Homo sapiens: one gene and its partner. The protein of the gene in region 1 interacts with the protein of each later gene in a biochemical or structural test. Each region holds a gene or a part of one and is shown on either strand. Other genes may lie near its edges.

Region 1 (12,177 bases):
ATAGTGGCAGCATATGTTAAAGACTTAGGGGGTTTAATTTACTCTAGCCACTTAACTTTCTGGTTGTAAGCAGCCAGCTGTTCTCTCCCCATTTCATTTCATCTCACTCTCAGCTTAGTCTCTTGATGGCAAACCTCCATCAAGAGGTGGTGCTTCCTCATGCTGACATTTAAGTCTCTTCAGCATTTACTCTGATCTGTTCTAGCCATCTAGTTGTCTATTCATCTTTTCTGACTTTTTTCAAGTTCTTTCTTTGGAGTCCTCCTGTTCCCCTCACTTTTGCTCGTACTTCAGAGATCCATCTCAAGTGCTGCCCTCTCCTGGAAGTCTACCTCTTGTAGTGCAGTCACATTTTACTGAAATGTATAATTCTGGGAATTTCACATGCTGAGAAATTTAAATAAAAGTTTCTTGCTTTATGTGCAAAATTTGAAATAATCCAAACCCCTCTCTATTAGAAAACACATAACTTCCTATTGCCATAGAACATACAGCTTTAAAAAGAAACACTAGCTATCTTTTGTCAGTTTTTTGTGACCCACCAGCATTCTGAAGTACAGGATATCTGTCAGTGCCATTGCTTGAAAACATTCCCCAGAAGCATTCACTTTAGAATGGAAGTTAGATGTTGTAAACTCGGGAAGAAGGCCAAATGATGACCATGACACAACTTGCTACAAAATATTAAAGCTGATGCTGGGGGTGAGGGGGCAGAATTTAAAAGCACACTTAAAATAGTTGAATTGTGAAAAGGCATAAAGAAAGCGTGGTGATTAAGTGTGGGCTGAGGAGCCAGATGGCTCTAGTTCAAATCCTGAATCTAACACCTATTGGATGACTTTGCCCAAATAATTCAATCTCTCATGTTTCCTCATTTAAAAAAAAAAAAAATTCCCAAAAGACAACTTGACAGTGGCTCCTCATTTTTGAAATGGGCTGATAATAACTCCTAGCTCATGGAGTTGTGCATATTAAATAAGTTTAGTGGCCGTAAAGCTCTTAGGAAGTGCCTAACCCATACTATGTGCTCAGTAAATATAATTATTTCATTAGGAAAGTTAATCCTGAACTATGTGAAATTTAAATTGGAATGTATTCTTTAAACATTAAATGTGACCATCCTGAAAGAAATTCTCCTTTCTTGATAGTTTCAAGGAATAGTCAGAATGCTGCCAAGCTCCTTGAAACCATGTAGTGAGAAATGTAGAGAGAATTAAGGGTGAGGGGAGATTTTTTTTGCTTTGAAAATGTAGTCATGCTTATTAAAGAAAATTTGAGAAGTTTAGAAAAGTATAAAGATGACAAAAATTGCTCATATTCCTGCTACCTCAGTGCTAACCATGTAAGCATTTTAGTTAATTTCTTCTAGTCATTTTCCCCTTGGACATTAATTTTTTCAATGTACAGACATACGTGATTATAACACATATACAGAACTAGAGGTTATTTAGCCTAGAGAAGTGAACCAATGTAGCAGTCTAGATGAGGGATATTGGGGGCCTGGTTTAGGTGAATGGCTACAGAGATAAAGCATAGGGACAGGAGACAAAGATATTTCTGAGATAGAATCAACAAACTTTGGTGTGGTGGTTTCAAAGATAGTTTTTTAGCTCTGGCTCCTGAAAGGAGGCAGATGGAACATAGGAGGAAGAGCATATTTGCTGGGGAAGATGTTTGGTTTTGGACATGCTGAGTTTGAGATTTGAATAGGACATCCAGATGGAAATATGTAATAGGCAGTTGAGGTATATAGCAAGGACTTGAGAGAGTAATTTGAGGGTAATCTGCTTGGGATGTGAATGAGAGCACCGAATAGTCAAATATGGTGCGTAAGTGAGCTAATTTTTTACTTATATATCTGACCCCTTAGTATATATCATAGCCTTTCAAGGGCAGGAATAGAGTCTCCATCCTTACTTCCCAGCACAGTACAAAATAGTAGGTATTTGTGGAATGAGTTTACTGAAACAAAAGAGAGAGGTCATTAATTTGGTCACTGTAGAATGAACTTTAGGAGGTCATCTTTATCATTTATTGCCCCTTTTCTCTTCAGTTGTGATTTCAGTTCCTAAAGAAAAATAAGAGACCGTGGCTGGGTACAGTGGCTCACACCTGTAATCCCAGCACTTTGAGAGGCCAAGGTGGGAGGACCACTTGAGGCCCAGGAATTTGAGACCAGACTGGGCAGCAAAGAGACCCTGTCCCTACAAAAAAAAAGTTTTTTTTAATTGGCTGGGCATGGTGATGCACTTCTCCAGTCCTAGCTACTCAGGAGGCTGAGGTGGGTGGGAGAGAGGATCACTTGAGCCTAGGAGTTTGAGGTTATAGTGAGCTGTGATTGAACCACTGAACTCTAGCCGGGTTCAAGCAATTCTCCAGCCTCAGCCTCCCAAGTAGCTGGGACTAGAGGCATGCGCCACCACGCCCGGCTACTTTCTGTATTTTTAGTAGAGACAGGGTTTCACCATGTTGGCCAGGCTGGTCTGAACTCCTGACCTCAAGTGATACACCTGCCTCGGCCTCCCAAAGTGCTGGGATTACAGGCGTGAGCCACCTTGCCTAGTCCAGTTTTTTAAATGCAAGATTAGGTTGAAAGGATTACAGCCATCCTGTTATTTGGATGGCTGTAATCCTTTCAACCTAATCTTGCATTAAAAAAAAAAAAAAAAAAAAAAAAAAGCCGGGCGCAGTGGCTCCCAGCACTTTGGGAGGCCGAGGCGGGCAGGTCACGAGGTCAGGAGCTCGAGACCATCCTGGCTAACACGGTGAAACCCCGTCTCTACTAAAAATACAAAAAAAAAAAAAAAAAAAAAATTAGCCGGGCATGGTGGCGGGTGCCTGTAGTCCCAGCTACTTGGGAGGCTGAGGCAGGAGAATGGCGTGAACCTGGGAGGTGGAGCTTGCAGTGAGCCAAGATCGTGCCACTGCACTCTAGCCTGGGCTGACAGAGTGAGACTGTCTCAAAAAAAAAAAAAAAGCAAAAAAAAAAAAAAAAAAAAAACCACAAAGGCTGGATGCGAGGTGGCTTTTGCCTGTAATCCCAGCACTTGGGGAGGCCAAGGCAGGCGGATCACTTGAGGTCAAGAGTTCGAGACCAGCCTGGCCAAAATGGTGAAACCCCATCTCTACTAAAAACAGGAAAATTAACCGAGCCTGGTGGCGCACAGTTGTAATCCCAGCTACTCAGGAGCCTGAGGTGAAAGGATCCACTTGAATCTGGGAGGTGAAGGTTGCAGTGAGCCGAGATTTCACCACCGCACCCCAACCTGGGTGACAGAGTGAGACTTGATTAAAAAAACAAAAAGAAAGAAAGAAAATGCCTGGCTAGCCACAGTGGTTCATGCCTGTAGTCCCAGCTACTTGGGAGGCTGAAGTGGGAGGATCACCAGCAGTGATAGAATGAGACTCTATCTCAATTTAAAAAAAAAGTGATAATGAAGAAGATTGATTATTCCAGCCATTCTTCACATACCCAGAGTATGCTTATAGTGGGTATAAGAGATCTCACTACTTAATTTGAACCAACACATGAGGGGGTAAAGATTTAGGAATATAAAAAGTATAAATTAGTATAGAGCAAACTGGAAGTTCCTCAAGAGTATTGAATCTTTGAAATTGTGTAGCTTACAGAAGTCCTGGTGGAATGTCTGTCAGAAGCTATTAGATTGGTGGCAAGAGCGTTCTAAGTGGACAGGTGGATTGTGGAAAGACTAACCCCATCTGTATGCACTCTGTCCTTCTCTTTGCATACTTTAGTTAGCAGTTGGTTAATTTGCATGTGTGGTTTCAGCCATCATGTTGTATTGACTCATTCTGAAAGCTCTGTGAGGATAGGCCACATGTCTGCCCGCCCCCACTGCATCTAGCACTTTATGTGTGATAATCTATTGAAAAATATTTGTCAAATGAATAAAATGGTGAATGTATTCAGCAGACATTTAGTGAGACTTGAGAATGTCCTGTGGGGGTGGAAGTGGGTAGAGGAGTGGTAGGCCTATAAGGATTGATGAGACATAATGTCTGACTTTAAGGAACATAAATCTGGCACTAAATATAAATTTTTGAAACTCCTTAATTCTTAGATTAGCCAATGCAGACAGTAAGTAACTTACTGACCTAAACCAGAATTTTTTTGTAACATAGATTTTAATAAATTTCTTTGTTTTTTGTTTTTTGGTTTTTTTTTTTGAGACAGTCTTGCTGTGTCGCCAGGCTGGAGTGCAGTGGCGCAATCTTGGCTCACTGCAACCTCCGCCTCCCAGGTTCAAGCGATTTTCCTGCCTCAGCCTCCTGAGCAGCTGGGACTACAAGCGCGCGCCACCACGCCCATCTCTAATATTTGTATTTTTAGAGACGGGGTTTCACCCATGTTGGCCAGGATGGTCTCGATCTCTTGACTTTGTGATCCGTCCGCCTCGGCCTCCCAAAGTGCTGGGATTACAGGCGTGAGCCACAGCACCTGGCTGATTTTAATAAATTAGGTGAAATCTTAGTTATGTAACAGACACCCATTCTGCATTCTTTCTCTACTAATTCAGCTGGGAAGCAGGATTGCTTAGGGGTCAGTTTTATAATGTTACTCAGTTTTTTTATTTTATTAAAATTAGGGATTTGATTAAGTGGTGACATGTTGCTTTTCTGAAATTACAGAAGGGCATTTATCTAAAGTGACTGTGACCAAGTAGCAAGATACTTAATTGAGTAGGTCGGTATACTAAAAATAGCTCAACTGACTGTAATGATTCAGGTATGCAAAGATCAGATAATGCAATATATTAGTTAAGGGAACTTTTACTGTATATGGTATAATGGTCTATGGTATATTTCCTTGTAAGTTGTTTCTCTCTCTCTCTTTTTTTAAATGTTAAAGTAATCAAGATGATGCTAACAGTCAGTTACCAGAACTCATACAGGGACCATTTGTGTGGAAACTAAAGCTGCAGAAAATCCAGCAGAATCCTGCGCTACTATTGTAGTTATTTGTAGTTGTTTAGGCAGAAAAATCAAAGACAGGAAGTTAGGAATGTTTGAAGACATTATTCTAGGGTAATGAATTCAGATAAGATGTATTTCACTCATGTTAAAGCTATCCTCTGAAAATAAGACTTGCCTATAGAAGTATCCCCAACCAAAAGCCTATTAGGAACTCCCTAGCCCAGTCAGACAGAATGTGTATTCCAGGGAGAAGGCTGTATCCTGCTTATGTTAGACTGTACTACATACTTCACGTCTTAACTAGATATACCAATTAAGAATAGGCAAAACCTAATCAGTTGTCAGAAGGAAGATATATATGAACAAGAGAGAAAACAACTCCATGGAACTCAGAAGGAGAGTCCCCAAACATGAATTTGGCAGTGATTTTTCAACACTGTCCAGGGAGAACATAAGCCAGCTTTCCACCATCATTTGGACAAATTTTTAGTGATAGGACACATATAATTTATCAGGCTTTATTGTGGTTTCATTTTCTTTTGGTTTAGATTCAATACTCACCAGATAACTTCTCAGATGCCACAGTATGAGGAATAGGGTACCCTGTGTGGTAAGAGGACTATTCCCCCCATTGTAACCAAATAAACTGGCATTTGGCCTATATGGTAATTTTCTTCATAAACTTTATAAAAAATAAATATATATTTTGTTGAGGATACAGGGCTAGTGAAAAATAAAAATATCAATATAACATTAACCTTTTAGAAATTAGTTAGCATAAATTAACCCTTGGAAGCCTAATCAATTCCATGTGTCCAGAAAAAAAAAAAAGGATTTTATGGTGCTGTAGAACTGAGAGTCATATTCAGGAATAATTCATCTCTTGTTGTAGAAGGCAGGGATCATAGTCTTATTCTTATGTACCCAGTGCTTGGCACATGGTTGAAAACTCATTATTGAATTATAGAGATGGCAACTCCAGACCTATAGTGAGAACAACTAGACATTTTATGGCTCTACTCTTAGAATTATTCTGACATCAAAAGAGTAGTTCTGCCATTTCTTTAACTCAGCAGAAATCATTCATTAAGTGATGAAAATAGAAGCTTCTAAACAAACCAGAGCCTTAAAAGGCAAATAAAAGGTATATGCATCTGTTAGAAAAAAAATGGGAGAGCTATGTGGTGTGTTTGAGGACAAAGACAATCTGTTTCATTATTTTTATTTGTAAATAATTTTTAATTTTATTTTGTAGACCTTATTGCAATATGCAAGCAACAAGAATGCATCAGAACATATTGTGTATCTTCTGGAGGTATATCGACTTGCCATCCAAAGCTTTGCCAGTGCACGTCCATACTTAACTACTGAATGTGAAGATGTCCTCTTAGTGCTTGGCAGATTAGTACTGTAAGTTTGAGAACTTAAATCACTCTTAAAATTGAGTACCATTGGTCGTGTTGTTTGCCTGGTTTCTCTTTACAGTGGCATCACATTTATTCTTCAGAGCACCATTAGAGTCATACCATTGAATGAAATTTCCTTCCTACTCACGTTCCCAGGAGATATAGTCCAAGTGAAGCTCCAGCCAAGCAACATCATCTTTAACTTGCCTCTAGAGTCTCTTTTCCTATTCAGGCTTGGAATCTGAGAATGATATATTTCTATCCCTTAGGTATAGATTGATTTAAATGACAGAATACCTGGAAACTGGTAGTCCTTGAAGAACATCTTGGCAAAAACAACATGAAATTCTGCAATTTGATTATATTTGAACTAAGAATAATTTTATTAGCAAAAAATATCAGGGTACAGTATAAGATTACCATCCTAAGAAAGAGATCATGATTTAGCGCGGGCATGGTGGCGCACGCCTGTAATCCCAGCACTTTGGGAAGAGGCTGAGGCACGAGAATCGCTTGAACCTGGGAGGTGGAGGTTGCAGTGAGCCAAGATGGCGCCACTGCACTCCAGCCTGGGTGGTGGAGTGGAGACTGTCTCAACAACAAAAAAAAAAGAACGTGATTTAGCTGTTATTTTAATATTTAGCTGCATAGTAGCAGACAAAATTACACCTTTATTGTAATTTTCATCTGCAAATTGAAAAGATACAACAGCCAATCAGTTTTAGCTGGGCATCACCTTGTTCAACTTACAGATTGTTTAGTGAGATGACTTCTAGTCTAGATGGTTTATTTTATTTTTTTTCTAGCCTCACCTGTTTTCCTTCCTATTTTCCAGTGGCCCTTTATGGAAGACCAGCATTCCTGGTTTTATGATCATATTTTTCCTTCTACCAAGTCCTAGTTTCTGTTTTACCTATTGTAATCCCTAAGGGGTAAAGGATTATTCTGTAGGGTTTTAGAGAGATGTTGATTCATTGGTATTTTGAGTTGCTCATTATTCAAGTTGTAGTGCATTTCTTTTTTCAAAAAAATCTTCCTGTTATTTCTTTTCTGTGTCTTCTGGATAATAGTCAGAAAAAGGAAACTCTTTTGCTTGGTTTTTTTTACAGGTAAAGAAACGACTTTGCCAGTCTTCCTGCTTCCTCTGCAAGTGACAGAAACCTATAGATAACAGTTACATATATTTATCATTTATCATTTTATCAGCTGAATTGACAGTAGTATGAGCTCCCATTTTTGTCTACTGGAATTAGAATTGTCCTATATGGGTGCCTCTTCACACCCAAATAAACAAAATAAAACTGCTTGGAATGTGATTTCTAAAGAGCTTATTATATTCTTACCAAATGTACTAAAGCAACAATGTAAATATAAAGCCTTGTGGTCTTTCTTTTTTTCCTCCTTTTTAAATTGAACAGTCAATATAACAACTCTGAAGCAAATTTTGAAGAGTAAAAACATTTAAAATAGCCTAAACAAATGTAAAATAGATTTTTAGTATTGCTGTCATACTCTACTTAATTATTACTATAACCACCTTTATATACTTACTCATTTTTATTGTAGGAGTTGTTTCGAATTACTGCTTTCAGTGTCTGAAAGTGAACTGCCATGTGAAGTCTGGCTACCATTCCTTCAGTCTCTACAGGTGAGTTGATTTTAACTCAGAAAAGTTTTCTGTATCCAAGACACCTAATTAATTACTCCCAGCAAACTAAAATTGGAACCTTAGAACAAAAACAAGTTTATTATATATTGATATTAGGTCATGAAATGATAAAAAGGCCCTTCACATGAAGGGGATGTATTAAAAATGGGTTTTTTAAATTTGGTTTTGTTTGCCTCTACATAGTTAGAAATCAACAAAAAAGTTTCATTATTCAAACATAAAGTTTAGACAGCATAAAGCTATCAAAATCATACATGATTATAAAGTAACAGTATTTGGATCCTTCATAGCATACTTATTGGTAACCTTCAATATACAAAACACTATTTCATTACATCTAAGGTTCACCTTTTTCTTCCTAACACTTTAAGAATTGTACCTGGCTGGGTGTAGTAGCTCACGGCTGTAATCCCAACACTTTGTGAGGCCAAGGCAAGTGGATCACCTGAGGTCAGGAGTTCGAGACCAGCTTGGCCAACATGCCGAAACCCTGTCTCTACTAAAAATACAAATATTAGCCGGGCATGGTGGCGGACACCTGTAATCCCAGTTACTTGGGAGGCTCAGGCAGGATAATCGCTTGAACCCAGAAGGCAGAGGTTGCAGTGAGCCAAGATCGCACCACTGCACTCCAGCCTGAGCAACAGAGTGAGACTCTGTCTCGGAAAAAAAAAAAAAAGACATAATAAATAATAGACCGGGCATGGTGGTACATACCTATAGTCCCAGCTACTCAGGAGGCTGAGGCAAGAGAATCTCTTAAGCCCAAGAGTCCGAGGCTGCAGTGAGATATGATCACACCACTGCACTCCAGCCTGGGTGACAGGGCTCATCCCTAAAATAATAGGACTCGTCTCTAAAAATAAATGCATGCAGTCATTCATTTATTGATCACTAATTATGTACCAATCACTGCTTTACACTACATTTTACTTGTTTTATATCTTCTAATCAAATTACAAACCTTATAGTGTGAGAATTATTTGAATCTCCATTTACAAATGGGGAGACAGGTGAAGAGAGGTTAATTAGCTTGGACAAAGTTACACACAGATTTCAAACCCTGAGCTTACTTTGCTAACTACTTCCTTGAGGACACAGCTTAGACCTGTTTCATGGAGGCACAAATAAAGACATGCATATTAACAGACACACTTCATTATCTGAACATTTCTTTCCTCTGGAATACATAACCCAAAATGAAATGATATAATGTTCTCTTTAGTGAGAAGAGGATTCTTTGTCATGTTCTTGGCCTATTTAAAGCCCTGTAATGCAGTCCTAATATCTCACATATCCGTACAGCTGCTAAAATCATCTTTCATGCGTAGCACTTTGATTTTTGTCACTCTGTGTTCTGAAGCCTGCCAGTCGTTTTGTTCTGGCATATGGCATCCTAGAAGGGCAAATCCTAATTAGGACTATTACTACTATATTAATACTGTTTGAGTATCCCATATCTCAAATGCTTAGGAGTAGTTTGGATTTTGGAATATTTGCATTACACTTAGTAGTTCAGCATCCCTAATCTGAAAATCCGAAATGCTCCAGTGAGCATTTCTTTTGAGTATCGTGTTGATGCTTACAAAGTTTTGGATTTGAGGAACATTTTGGATTTCAGATTTTTGGATTAGGGACACTCAACCTCTATCCTTTTTAGAGGGAAATCTCTCATATTTCTTTATTATTTTCTTAGCTTGCTTGAATAAAATAGTTGCCTCTTTTTCCACTTGCATAAGCTTTTTCAGGTTTATCAGATGTGTAGGATATATTTTTTAACATGTGTTCAGTAAATAAATGTAGTAGGGGTACAAATAAATGTTAAGACATGATCCCTGTTGAAATCCAAAAGATAAAAAGCCCTTAAGTTTTCTTATTTTATATTATAAATGGACAAGGCAGCAAATGGTATTAAGGATACTTTTGGTAAGAGAATAGTTTTTATCAGAGCAGGCTGCAGGTAGAATATTTCTCAATTACTATTTACAGCTGAGTAACTTTTTTCCTATGGACATAAAAATATACACTCTGCAAATGATTTTTTAATGAAAAATGACAGCCTATTTTCTGCAACTTGGTTTTTTACATAATAATCATGGACATACATCTAAGATTGCATATGTAGATCTCCTGTTTTGATGATCACCTAGAATTCTGTTTTGTGGTTGTGCCTTTAATTGACCAATGTCTTGCTATTTACTGTAAATGGTGCAAGAGTGAACATCTTGAAAAGGGCGGCAGAGTGGTCTTAGCAAAAAAAAAAAAAAAAAAAGAGCATCTTGTGCTATTATTTCTGTATTGTAGATTTCAAGAACTGGGCTAGGATATTTCCACCTTAAAAAGAAACAAATTGAAGTTTTAAAATTATTCTTGAAATGCTACCATAGTTTTTGTAGTTTTATAGATTTAACATTATTTTTAAAAAATAACTTTGCTATATTAGATGTCTATTGGTAACAAAGGATTACATACCATTCTTATTCTGAGTAAACTGTATTTTGAACTTTAACAAATGAGAAAGTAGAGAACTTTTAAAAAGAAACTCAAACTGTGGTTTTTATTTCAGTTGCTGCATATCATGGTGGGTGGTAGTATTTTCTGCTAAAGTGTAATGGTACAGGTCAGTTAGACATTATAAATATGATAAACCTGACACCTCAAATTTTTAACTTTTCACATGGACTTTTTCTCCTCACTCCAAAGTAAACGCGAGTCATTCTAAGTTAAGAAGAAAGAAGCCTGAGGACAAGTCAAGCTGTTAAAGCAAAATTGCAGCATTTGTTAAATATTGCTATTGGTGAACTAATAATTAGAAATATTACTTTCTGTATCAATTCCATATTTTAAGTCCTTTCTCAGTGGAAAATAATGCAACATATTGGGTGGGTGTGTGGGTGGGTGTATATGTGTAGTAAAAGCCTATTTTAACATGAAGGTTAAGGGATGGGGGAGACTTTATATCTTGTAGTTTTCACTTGAGTGAATACTAAACTATATTCTTATGCCTGTGAACATTTTTGGCTTATATTTTCCAAAGAAATGTTGACGTAAATGGAAGCTTATGTTCCTAGAGAATTTCAGGAGTTTAAAATAAGGGAAACAAATTAGAATTTTAGAACATGGGAACAAGCTCACCATAATCAATAATACTCAGTAGTAATAGAGGACAGTGAAACATATACGTAATCATTTATACTGAATTACATTTCTGACTCCTTTTCCCTCACCCTTGAATATAAGAACTTTAATGAACAAACTATTGGTAAATACATTTTGTTTGCTGAGTTAATAGACTTTTCAGGACATTTTATATAGAGCCACCTGTCATTTAAATAGCAATTTTTTAGACGAATTTAAACAATTATATAATGATTTGTGTCACTAAGTAATACTCCTGTAATTCCTGTTAGAGGAACAGGCAGCCTGTGTGAATACTGCAGAATTCTTTAAAAGAAAGCGGCACCAATGGCTTTCAAATAATTAAATGGGCACAGTGGCTCATGCCTTTAATCTCAACACTTTGGGAGGCTGAGGCAGGTGGATCACCTGAGGTCAGGAGTTCGAGACCAGCCAGGACCAACGTGGCAAAACCCCGTCTCTACTAAAAATACAAAAATTAGCCAGGCGTGGTGGCAGGCGCCTGTAATCCCAGCTACTTGGGAGATTGAGGCAGGAGAATCGCTTGAACCAACAAGAGCAAAACTCCATCTCCAAAAAAAAAAAACCAACAAAACAAAAAAAATAAATCAGCCTCCACCAGGGCTATCATTCAAGTCTTCAGAGTCTGCTAGTAACATGAGTGATCCTAATAGTAGGGCACTCCAAATATCCAACAGTAATGCAAGGACCTAACTTGAATTGTGATAATTTTACCAGGGAGGAATTCAGGAAAACGTTTTAAAGGCACTCTTTTACTTAGTGAAAACATCCTAGTTATTTATTTATTTATTTATTTATTTATTTATTTATTTATTTATGAGACGGAGTCTTGTTCTGTCACCCAGGCTGGAGCGCAGTGGCACAATCATGGCTCACTGCAACCTCTGCCTCCCAGGCTCAAGTGATTCTCCTGCCTCAGCCTCCCGAGTAGCTGGAACTATAGGTGGGTGCCACCACGCCCGGCTAATTTTTTGTATTTTTGGTAGAGACAGAGTTTTGTCATTTTGG
Region 2 (12,177 bases), on another chromosome or scaffold:
AAGACAATATTTTCGGCAGAAGAAACCAAAAAACTAACAACTTTGGTGGATGGGTCCACAAGGGATAGGAAAACTGAACAGTAAAGGAAGAGGAAGGAGATTGTGACTTTAGTGGACAACAAAGTTAAAGATAGTAAGAAACATAAAATTCAGCACCCCTACCTCTTCTCCTCACCCTACAAAAGAGAATTCTCATAAAAAATAAAAGAAATAGGTACATCTGGATGTGGTCAGTAGCAAAATGCATATCAAAGTGAAAAAAATTATTCATCTCTTCTAGGGAGGCAAAAATATGAAAGAAAAGCTTTGTAATTGTGTATAAATGAGGAATTTTTAAAAAGCTTTCTCCTCTAAATATAATGATTTGAGAAGGAAGGAATCAAAATAGGTTAGGATTTAAGGAAGGAGGAAGGGATGGAGGAAGGATAGAGACAACATGATCTATATAAAATGAAGTTATACTTTACAAGAATCCAGTCAGATACAGTGAGGAAGAAAGAAATAAACAATGTGAGAATAAAATACTGAAGAAGAGAGAAAAACAGATTTAAAAAAAACAGGCAAAAGACCAATCCACATTAAATGCCACCAGCAGCTTGTGAGGTCAGGGAGATGCTGAAATTGTCGCAATAATGTGCCTCTGTATTGCTTTTGTTTGCTGGTTAGGTATTTGCTTTTAGGAGCTTGGGGGATGTGGGGATAGAGTGACTGATTTTTAGCCTACTTCAATTTATTCCACCTAAATGAAACTTGGAGAAAAGAGATTTTGGACGGGAACATCCTTCAGCAACACACTTTTCTTGTGATATTGCTGATATTATAGTGGTGATATTTTATCTTCTATTTTGATCTCTCCCAAGTATTATTTGTGCTGACAGATCATTGTTACTGTTCCAATGACTATGGATTTTCAATGTGACACATGGCCCACAGAGTGGCCTGGCTTGCTCTCATCTTTGCTTTGTACAATAGAAGTCAATTCATAATTAAGTACTTGAACAAAACTTTTCCTGTGAGATGAAAAGACAGGAATGACCAGCTCATTCTCAGAGAAAGATAAGGATAAGGAGTATAAACAGCTCAGTTGTATTGATTATATATAAATGGCAACCTTGGCTACTACACCAGAGAATATTTCTCATACTACAATTTCACACCTGGAAAATGCTGTCCTTATGACTAAATGTTTGAAATCACAGTGAGAAAATCATCTGGTCCTTGGACTTTCCCCTGTGACTTACCTGATGTTCTTCCATCAGCATATAAACATTCAAGCACTGATTCTTAATATTAACCTTCTATTGAAGGTTAAAATATTTGCTTTCAAATGAGCTAAAAATATACATGGTTTATTTTATCTCATTTGAGCCTAGGCTGGGGTGCAGTGGCATGATCATGGCTCTAAAATATACGTTTTAAAACCTACTTTTCATATCAAAGACTTAGATCAACAGAGGTATATGAAGGGATTGTATAACCCCATTACCCTGGGTTGTGTGAAGAGATTTCCAGAAGAGATCTGCTCTTCTGAAGAAACTAAAGAAGATGCATCAAGCTACCATCTGTTTCCAATTCTGAGAGTCAAGTCCAAGTCAGCCTTAAACATGAATTAAAAACTAAATTTATGGTGACTATAATTTTTAAAATCTTGGAGATTTTTTATGTATATTAATATTTATTCTTTTTTATTTTTCTTTTTGTAGAGATGGGCTCTCACTATGTTGCCCAGGTTGGTCTCAAACTTCTGGCCTCAAGCAATGCTCCTGCCTCAGCCCCCCAAAGTGCTGGGATTATAGGCATGAGCCATTGTGCCTGGCCTGAGAAATGTTTTTGTCCATGTTTTACCAAAATATTTTTTAATAGAAACTTTTAAAAGAATTTGCAACTTTACTGAAATAGGAATTCCCACAAGATTTAAAATATGTCAGTTAATGAATGTACTTTATGTGAGGAATTTTAAACCACAAGTAATCAATAAAGTTTACTGAGCACGTATTATGCACAGTCCTATACTAGTTACTATGAAGGACGTAAACATTTATGAAGCCCCCATTGCATGGCAGGCATGGGCTACATGTATTTCACGCTTATACTCAGTCCTAACCACAGTCAGAGTCGGTATTTCTATTTCACAGATGAAAAAACAGAGGTCAGAAAAATAACTTGTGCCTGGTCATGGGGGTAATAATTTAGAGTTCTGTGATGTTTTATCTAACTCTACTACATTATGTTTAATGCTCTGAGAAGAACAAAGAGTTGCATCACTCACTAGTAAGAAGAAAACAGATCCATTGATAATGCATTTCCTAGGTCTCGAATGTTATATTTAGAAGAGATCTTAACCATCTAGGCTATCACTTTGATTTATACATCTATGCCGCTTTAATCTTTAACCTAATTGAACACTATGCATAATACTTCTGTATAAATATATAATATTAATATTTGTATTTATATTTTTATAATTATATGTAATATTGTCCAAGAATGTTACTAACTGCAGAGAAAACAGGGATACACAAGAATTATTTGGACAATGGCCAAACTGAGGCATTGAGAGGTGAAGAGACCTGCAAAGGTCATTTATACAGCAGTGGCAGAGTCAGATCCAGAATCCAGTCCTTCTGACACCATTGAAGCTGCTTTTCCATCACTCCCCAATTTTTACACAGAGTAAGCTGAATCAAAACTGCACCATACAAAGTAACAGATATGTATACAAAGTAGCAGACATTTAGGAGGAACAAGTATAGAGATCTAATGTATAGGATGAGGACTAGAGGTAATAATATTTTATTTGGGGTTTATGCTAAATTAGTAGATTTTTTTATGTTTATTTGTACATAGTAGGTGTATATATTTTATACATGTATATATTTATGGAGTACATGAGATATTTGGATACAGGCATACAGTGTATAATAATCACATCAGGGTATGGTGTATCCATCACCTCAAACATTCATCATTTATTTGTGTTATAAATCTTCCATTATACTTTTTTGTTATTTTAAAATGTACAATAACTTATTTGTGATGATAATGACCCTGTTGTGCTATCAAATGTTAGATCTTATTCATTCCATCTAACCACAATTTTGTACCCATTAACCATCTCCACTCCCTCTTCCTACTACCCTTTCCAGCCTCTGGTAGCCATCATTCTACTATCTCCATGAATTAAATTGTTTTAATTTTTAACTTCCACAAATGAATGAGACCATGCAAAGTTTGTCTTTCTGTGTCTGGCTTATTTCACTTGACACAATGATCTCCATTTCCATGCATGCTGTTGCAAATGACTGGATCTCATTCTTTTATATAGCTGAATAGTATTCCATTGTGTATATATACCACATTTATTTTATTCATTCTTCTGTTGATGGACACTTAAGTTACTTCCAAATCTTGGCTATTGTTGCTAGTGCTGCATAAATTAGTAGATTTTAGCTGCTGATACTGCCACCCCCTATAAAAAGTAGCTATGTGAAATGATGGATATGCTAATTTGTTTTCCTATAGTAAATATTTTACTATCTATGTGTATCCCACAACATCATATTGTATACCTTAAATATACACAATAAAGTTTATTTTAAAAATAAGACTCATGACGAGAAAACTACTTAAGAAACAACACACATATATATACACACATACACATTCAGTGAAATAACATTAAATGACAGTAGAATAGAAACTTATATTACAAACTGTGATTACAACTAAAACCAAAAGAAAACAACAAAAAAGACAAATTATCCAATAAAGTTCAGTATGTTAGGCATCTTTTAGGCATCTTCTTTTAGCCTTCTATCTCATTTTGTTCCACTGCCCGCCACTCACCCACCCTAAAAAATAAAAATAAAAATAATCTCATGGTTACAGTTTTAAAGTTTTATGGAGCCTAAACAATCCTTATAACAGTTTCAAATATTGACCTTTGTCACTGTGGTTTGAAACAGCAAGGCCGTTCCTCAATGCCAGAGCATGATGAAATATTGTCTTCCTTGGCTTCACATCTGGTTCTCCAAGTTCAGAATCAAATTTATTCAACAGATTTTATTTAATAAAAATAATATCTTATTTTCCAGGTATTTTGGAAAATATCTGCATTTGGGATTTATTCTAAGTTAGTAGGTTTTTATTTTACTGATTTTTTTTATTTTTATGGGTACATAGTGGGTATATATATATATGGAGTTAAGGAAATATTCGTATACAGGCATACACTTAACATAATGATAATGTTTTAAGATTTAAATAATTTAAGATTCATAATGATCATATTTTGCAAAATAAGATATTATCGCATAAAATTGGGGTAAAAATAACATTTTACTTATTCTGATTATGATCTTATTTGATCACAAAGTAAGAAGGCAAGTAGGAGAGGTATCTAAGCACAGAACTATCAAGAGATTTGTCTAGTAGGAAAGTCAGAAAATAAGGACTGGACATGAACACAGGCTTTCTACATCTAAATTGTTTTTCTATCAAATTGTATGGGAAAAGCAGAAAAAGGTTCCCAATGTCAGATGAGAACTTTATGTCCTTCTCTGGTCCCTAGGACACATCTTGGAATTATTTGGTGAAATGTTGTCAACATACATCTTCAAATGTGAAATATGTATGAAACACTATGCAAGTCATTGAGCAGGGAGGGAGTGTTATTCACAACTATGATTTCAGGTGATTCCTGACCTCTGGGAGTGCACCATCTCATGGTGGAAAATTTGCTGTAATGTGTAATACAAAACAATAAGTTTATATTAGGCTTCTGATGTAAGAGCTTTGGAAACTCAGTATAAGGGGTGGCTATAAGAGATGTGAAAGTTGAGAAGAAATCACAGCATAGATGGTATTTAAATTATGTCTTAAAGGATGAGGAGGATTTTTTTGATGCTGAAGAAGAAAAGTATGGGGAGATCCAAGGGAAAGAATTGAACATAAACAGTGTATACAGGGGCACAAAGGGATCTGAAGGCTTATAATTTTTAATGGCAGCATCTTGATAATTTAGTGTCTCTAAGTGGTAGTTGAAAAAATATCTTTTGAGATTTGCTCAATAGATGCTTCAGTTAACTGTGAAAAAGTTACACAACACAAATAAACTGAAAACCCAAAAAGGATTAGGGAACTCAGAATTTATTAGAATGTTTCCATTGTGAATTCTTTGTAAAGAAAAAACTGATTTCTAAAATAAACAAACATATTCTCTCCCACGGCCATGTGCAGTTTGTTGCCTCTGCAAATTCAGTTTCATGTAGCAGGATTTTATAAAGAGAAAGCAGTAACAATATCTCTGAGGTAAACGGAAAGCAGCACACAACCAATTCCTTCCACCTCAGTGAATTAGGAAAGCAGGTAGGAAGTTGAGCCTTTATCTGATGAATTAAATCAAGGCAAGCAACCAAGTGCATCATTCATGTCCCACAGCCTCTGTATTTTACTTCATTAGCAGAACTTTGAGTCTGACAAAGCTCAACAATTGTCACATCGTGGCCATGCGTTATCCTAACCCTGTGGACTGTAAGGCAAAAGAAACAAAATAAACAAGGGGAAAGCAAAAAGATTTTAAGATTCCAGGGCCTTCTGTTCTCACCCTTAATTGTTACCACCTCAGTTGTACTGCAGACCATCACTCACTGCAATACTGTCAGGAAGCATTAGCCAAGAGGTCTAAATAAGGCTCAGTAAAAGAGTAAATTGGTATCTACTCACTCAAATAATGATTGAAAACAGAATTCAGGCGAAAGGCTTTGATTGACAACATCTCCAAGATTATATGCACTCTGTAGATTTTAAATTGATGAAAGAGAGTTTCTACAGCTCTACATGAGTACTATATGATATGTCTGCCCCATCTATGACTGGAGATGAACGAGCATGTAATAATCCCTCAATGAGCCCACATGTTGCTGAGCTCTTTACGTTCACGCATTTGCTTTGGTGTTTTGCTGGCTGATGGTCTGTCACATTCCCTTGCCTTACTATACCCCTCACCCTGCCTTGATCTTGTGAGGAAGGCTTTACTGTCTGCGTTTTATAAGTGAGAAAACTGAGGTACACACACACACACACACACACACGTAATATGGCCCAAGGCACATAGATATTAAATGATGAACCTAATGTGCCTACATATGGATGTCTAAGTTCGATGTTTACATTATTTTTATTTTCTCACCTGAAAGTTTTTATTTTTTGAAGACATGATACAGTGAACCTGAGTTCTAACTTCAGCTGCATTTTTTTTTTTTTTGAGATGGAGTCTCGTTCTATCACTCAGGCTGGAGTGCACTGGTGCAATCTCGGCTCACTGCAAGCTCTGCCTCCTGGGTTCACACCATTATCCTGCCTCAGCCTCCCCGAATAACTGGGACTACAGTCACCCGCCACCATGCCCGGTTAATTTTTTTTTTTTTTTTTGTATTTTTAGTAGAGACGGGGTATCACCGTGTTAGCCAGGATGGTCTCGATCTCCTGACCTCGTCATCCACCCGCCTCGGACTTCCAAAGGGCTGGGGTTACAGGCGTGAGCCACTGCACCCGGCCACATTTTCATGCATGTATTTTAAACATCACACAAAATCGTCTATATGAAAATATTTTAATATTTTTAATTTTCTACACAAACAACGGAGAGTGCTACGCTTATTAGATGGGGTAGTGAGTGGCATGAGGAGCTCTGACTAAACAATTTAGCATGGAGGTGCCAAAGACTGGTTTGTTCTTGTCTATTCAGAGACCCCTGGGGGCCTCAACCACATAGAGAGAAGGTGACAATTCCTTTCAACTTGAGAAAACCAAGTAACCCAGTAATTATAGGAATTTATTGAAACCTGGGATCATGCAAACAAAGAAAGTAAACAGGGTGCTGAGTAAACCATACCGATTTTTGAAATTAGGTGCTGATTTGCTTAGGGAAGCATACTTTCTTTAAACATATACATTTTGGAATAATTAATAGAAACTGACAAAAGAGTGTTTGTGTGTGTATGCGTGCACGCACGCGTGCACGCCTAGACCTGTGAAAAGCCCACAGATATGACCAAGAATTAGACACAGCCTCTGCCCTGTCCACCAGGGTAACAAACAAGATGTATAAACAGACTTGTGAGGCAATGATAGAGATGCATGGGAGGTATTTTGGAAGCAATGAGAACTATGGCTTAGAAAGATAAAATGACCTACCATACATTGTTCAGCTGTTCATCTGTAGCGTTGGGACTAGAGTCTCCTGACTTTCTAGAGCATGAATTTTTCCAATAGGCCATTTTGCCTCCCATAAACCAGCATAAAATCTCACTGGAGATCAACCTGCTGCCTATGACCGATTATTTCTGTGCGTGTGTGTGTTTGCAGTGTGGTGGGATTGCGACTGTACACATTGACAGACGGTGGTCCTCTGTACTGCTCACAGACATGGAAGGTGCACTTTTATCAATGAATCTGGCTATTTGCAAAGCCCATCAATGATATCTACTCAATCACTTGGGCTTTCCTCATAAATAAATACCAGCTTTCTGGTGACCCTGACCAAACAGTGCTACCTGTCCTTCTCATTGCTCAGCAGGGACCAGCTAAGTGCCATTGCTAGTCACTCTGCCAGACCATCATTTCTGCCCTTTCTGCCTACTATAATTCTACTTCAGCTAACACCACAGCTTCAGCGTGAGAGTATTGATAGTTCTGGTCCCCAAATACTCCAAGCATTTCAGCATCCTGCCACTGCCATGTGTATTGGGCAGATAGAAACCTGATTCTTCCTAAAGTATGCATGAAGGATGTAAAGCCGAAGGGGGAGTGGGGGACTGGGGCCTCCCTGGAGATGTTGCATTGAAAAGGAAATCAGAGAGAAAACTATATTTGCAGTCCCAGGAAAAAATCTTTAATTGAACTGAAATGAGATAGTGTAGATAATTTGTGGTCTTACAATGGAACGCCGAATAAAGATTTTTAACAATTATAGTTAGAGAAGTTGTGGTGGTGGTGGATGAGGGAAGTTCTTTATCAGAAGATTTCTTGTATATGTGAAAATCAATGTTTGGGTAGTCACTTATTGAATGAATCAGAAGTCCTTAGACACTTTACCAGTTCACATTTCCTCTTAATATGCTTTAAAATGAGCAATAAAGTGTGTGTTTGTGTTCATAAATCTGCGTGCATTCACAAAAGAGGAATGTTTCTTGTTTTGTCCAAACTATTATTCTTTCAATTTCTTCCTGCAATGAATGGCAAAATAAAAGTGAACACTTCTGAGTTTTGCATATACCTGACCCTGTTCAAAATGCACTAAATATGTTAATTTATTAAGTCTCACTAAACCCAGAAGTGTGGGTGTGGTTAATATCTCTAATTAATAGATGAGAACAATAAAGCTTGAAGATGGTGAGTAATTCACTCAGGAACCCAGAGCCTGAGGTGACTATGCAGGACTCAACCACTGCCAGAGCTGAGGCCCTTAACCACTGTCCACTGTGCTCGTTACCATATATTATTTTGATCAACCTTCAATCTGTAGAATGAAGCCCTACCATAGAAGTGATGACAGAATAATGTGAACTGGGGGTTTGGGTAACCCAGGAAATCCATATTTGTCTTTTCTCATCTGTAAAATGGGGATGACAATAATAACTACTGTAACGGTTCATACTCAGAATATTAATTACATAGCCTGGCACAAACTGTGGGACAAAGTTTATAACGTAAATGGATAGCTTTGTTTTTATTTATTTACCCTTAACAACACTTGACGTTGCACAGGTCACTTAAGCTCTTTGAGTCTCCCTTTTCCTCATTAAGGGCTTTAATTAAAATATCCTCAGAGAATTGCTGGGTAGATGACATTGGAAAATACTAAATAAAAACTATAGATTATATTGCCCAATATTACACCTTCATTAAAACTGCTCATTCCCTCCCTCCCTCCCTCCCTTTCTTCCTCCCTTCCTCCCTTCCTCTCTTCCTCCCTTCCTCCCTTCCTTTTTTTGTTCCTTCCTTCCATGCCTCCACCTAAGGCAGTTTACCTCTGTAACATAGGGAAGAGTAGTGACACATATTTCAGATAGGTCCTAGGAAAATACAATTTGGGTTGAATATTGTAAAACTGCCATTGTATATGCACCTGCTCTATTCTTGTTCTTGCTCTCTAGATCCTTATATTGATTAGTTTCTGCTTTGGTCTCCTGAGTGGTAATTTCAGTGACAGTAATAAAAGTAGTTTACTAGTTACCTTAGTAAACAATCCCTTTATTCATCCTAATTGACCCATACCACACACAAACACACACACACACACACAAACACACACACACACACACACACACACACACAGCACACTGCCTGTTAGAGAAAGGACTGGAGGACAATTGCCTGCTACAATAGCCCACAAAGGGCCTGATTAGAGGGGCTATGGCTTTTAACAGAGCATGCCTCTGCTTGAATCCAGACTGAAATTAATTTTTCCAATTTGTGTATTGTTTTAATAAATTTTGAGTAATATGACATGTCTTCCATTCTCCATAGTAGCAACACTGAACATTTAAAGGGAAAGAGTCATATTTAATGGTTGCAGGAAAAGCTAATAATAAGCTACATGGATACAGATTTTTGTTTAATTGAAGAAATCAGGCTCTTTATTTGGTAGCAAAAGGGCACATCTTTTATTTGAAATTGTAAAAACTTCAGCTAATTGGTTCCTGCCTATTATATTTATTTATTTATTTATTTACTGTTTAGAAATATTTCATACTTTATTCCAATATAATTATCTTAGGACTGAAATCAGTGGAAAAATATTAGGGATTTTATATTGGCAAATTCTGAGTAACAGAAGTCTGGAATACCTCAGCATCTTTTTTTTTCCCTTTCATTTTTAGTTGACAAGTAATAATCATATGTATTTATGTGTTATTTTCATAGGTGTATACAATGTATAATGATCAAATAATGGTAATTAGGATATCTATCACCTCAAACATTTATTACTTCTTTGTGCTGTGAACATTAAAATCCTCTCTAACTTTTTGAAAATACACAATAAATTATAGCCAACCACATTCATTATATAGCGCTGTGGAACACCAGAACTCATTCCTCCCATCTAGCTGTGATTTTGTATCTGTTAACCAAACTCTCCCCATCCTACCCTCCCTCTCTCTTCCCAGCCTCTAATGACCACAGTTCTACTTCTATATCAACTTTTTTAGATTTCATTTACAAGTGAGAACTTTTGGTATTTATCTTTCTATGCCTGATTTAGTTTACTTAACGTTATGTCCTCCAGGTTCATCCATGTTGTGGCAAATGACAGGATTTCATTCTTTTTTCATGTCTGAATAGCATTCCATTGTGTATGTATATGACATTTCCTTTATCCATTTATCTGTTGATGGGCGTTCCGTTGTATTCCATATCTCAGTTACTGTGCGTAGTGGTGCAATAAACTTGGGGGTGTAGGTATCCTTTTGATATACTGACTCCTTTTTCTTTAGATAAATACCCAGTAGTGGGATTTCTTCTATCATCTTTTAAACCCCCATATCCCACTCTTACCTGCTCTTCATACCACTTCATACCACCGTCCTGAAATACCATTTTGATTCTTCTCCTCCCCAAACAACTAAGATATCTTACTTTATTCCAACACCGTCATTTTAGAATTGAAATAGACCCAGACATGTCCTTCCATCACTGTCATCTACCTTCTAGACAAACTATTTTACTTTTTGTTCCCCAATCACGAAGTTATTTTAAAATAAGCTCTCTCCTCCTTTCCCTCAATTTGTTCGATTTGATCTGTCCTTTCAGATTCTGCACAAATACTTCTTGCTCTTTAATATCTTCCCTGTCTACTCCAGTCTAATATCTTCTCTCTTCTTTATAACACTTAAAATTCTTTCTGATTATTATCCCTTCCAATAACTATTTACAGTTACACAGTTTCTTTGAGCATCTGGCTTGTGGTCTTAAGATGTTATTTAAAGTTTGAATTTGTATTTAATTTGTTATCTCTTTATGTTTAATTTTCCTGTTTTAATAGCAAATTCATGAGGAGTAGGAAATAGATTTTATATTGTCTTTCTTTTCCCGTGATACTTATGGGAGTAAATCTTCAAAAATATTTATAAACATAATACCCTTTTTCATCTTTGAGGAAATTCAGAAAGTAAGACACCGGGCATATGTAGTAAAATAAAACTAAGCAATATTCTAAAAGTTCACAATAGAGCCATGAATAATAGAGAAAGAAACTGGTACCAAGAGAGAAGTGGCAGGTATGTAAGTATAGGGTAAGGGTGTGGCTTGGGAACAACCTAGACTCAGGCCAGCATTAACAATCTTTGGTGACCATGGATTTGAAGGCCAATAAGCCCACACAGTGTTTAGGATGTTCAGAAACACAAATAGACCACAGGAAGTTTGTCCATCAAAACATGGCAGATAGTCACAAACAATTAAGATATAAATGCTGAGTTAAGGGCCGGGCGCAGTGGCTCACGTCCATAATCCCAGCGCTTTGGGAGGCCGAGGTGGGCAGATCACTTGAGGCCAGGAGTCCGAGACCAGCCTGGCCAACATGGTGAAGCCCCATCTCTACTAAAAATACAAAAATTATCCGGCTCTGGTGGTGCACTCCTGTAGTCCCAGCTACTCAGGAAGCTGAGGCATGAGAATCGCTTGAACCCGGGAGGCGAAGGTTGCAGTGAGCCGAGATCATGCCACTGCACACCAGCCTGGGCAACAGAGCGAGACTTTGTCTCCAAAGAGAAAAATAATAAATAAATAAATAAATGCTGAATTAAAAAAAACTGAGCATGCACCAGCAGACAGAATCAGAAGCAGTGTACACATTCCTTGAAAGCAAAAGATTAGGATAACTGACATATGAAACCATGAAAATAGCTCATGTTTTATTTCCGAAACCTTTTTCCACCGCACACCAGAACTGTGGACTACTCTCCGGAAAAAAAAAAAAAAAAAAAAAAAGGGTTTCCTGAGGGTTGGAGTGAGGAGGAGAAAAGAAAGTATTTTATAAAATGTTATAAGAAGATCTCAGCAAATAAGACTTCAGAACATTGTTTACCCCCATGGTTCTAAGTTCAGAATGTTTACTAACATAACAAAGAACAATTGTTTCTTGGTCAACACTAAGAAAAACTGAGGTAGATT

Evidence for each region.
Region 2: the proteins of RLF (region 1) and RIT2 form a complex in vitro, tested with the Homo sapiens proteins (one study listed by BioGRID).

What each region holds. Positions count from the first base shown.
Region 1 is NC_000001.11:40,182,865-40,195,041, forward strand, and holds part of RLF (zinc finger protein Rlf), read left to right. Parts: intron 1-6,190; coding exon 6,191-6,345; intron 6,346-7,907; coding exon 7,908-7,989; intron 7,990-12,177. UniProt on the Homo sapiens protein: May be involved in transcriptional regulation.
Region 2 is NC_000018.10:43,102,263-43,114,439, reverse strand, and holds part of RIT2 (GTP-binding protein Rit2), read left to right. Parts: intron 1-12,177.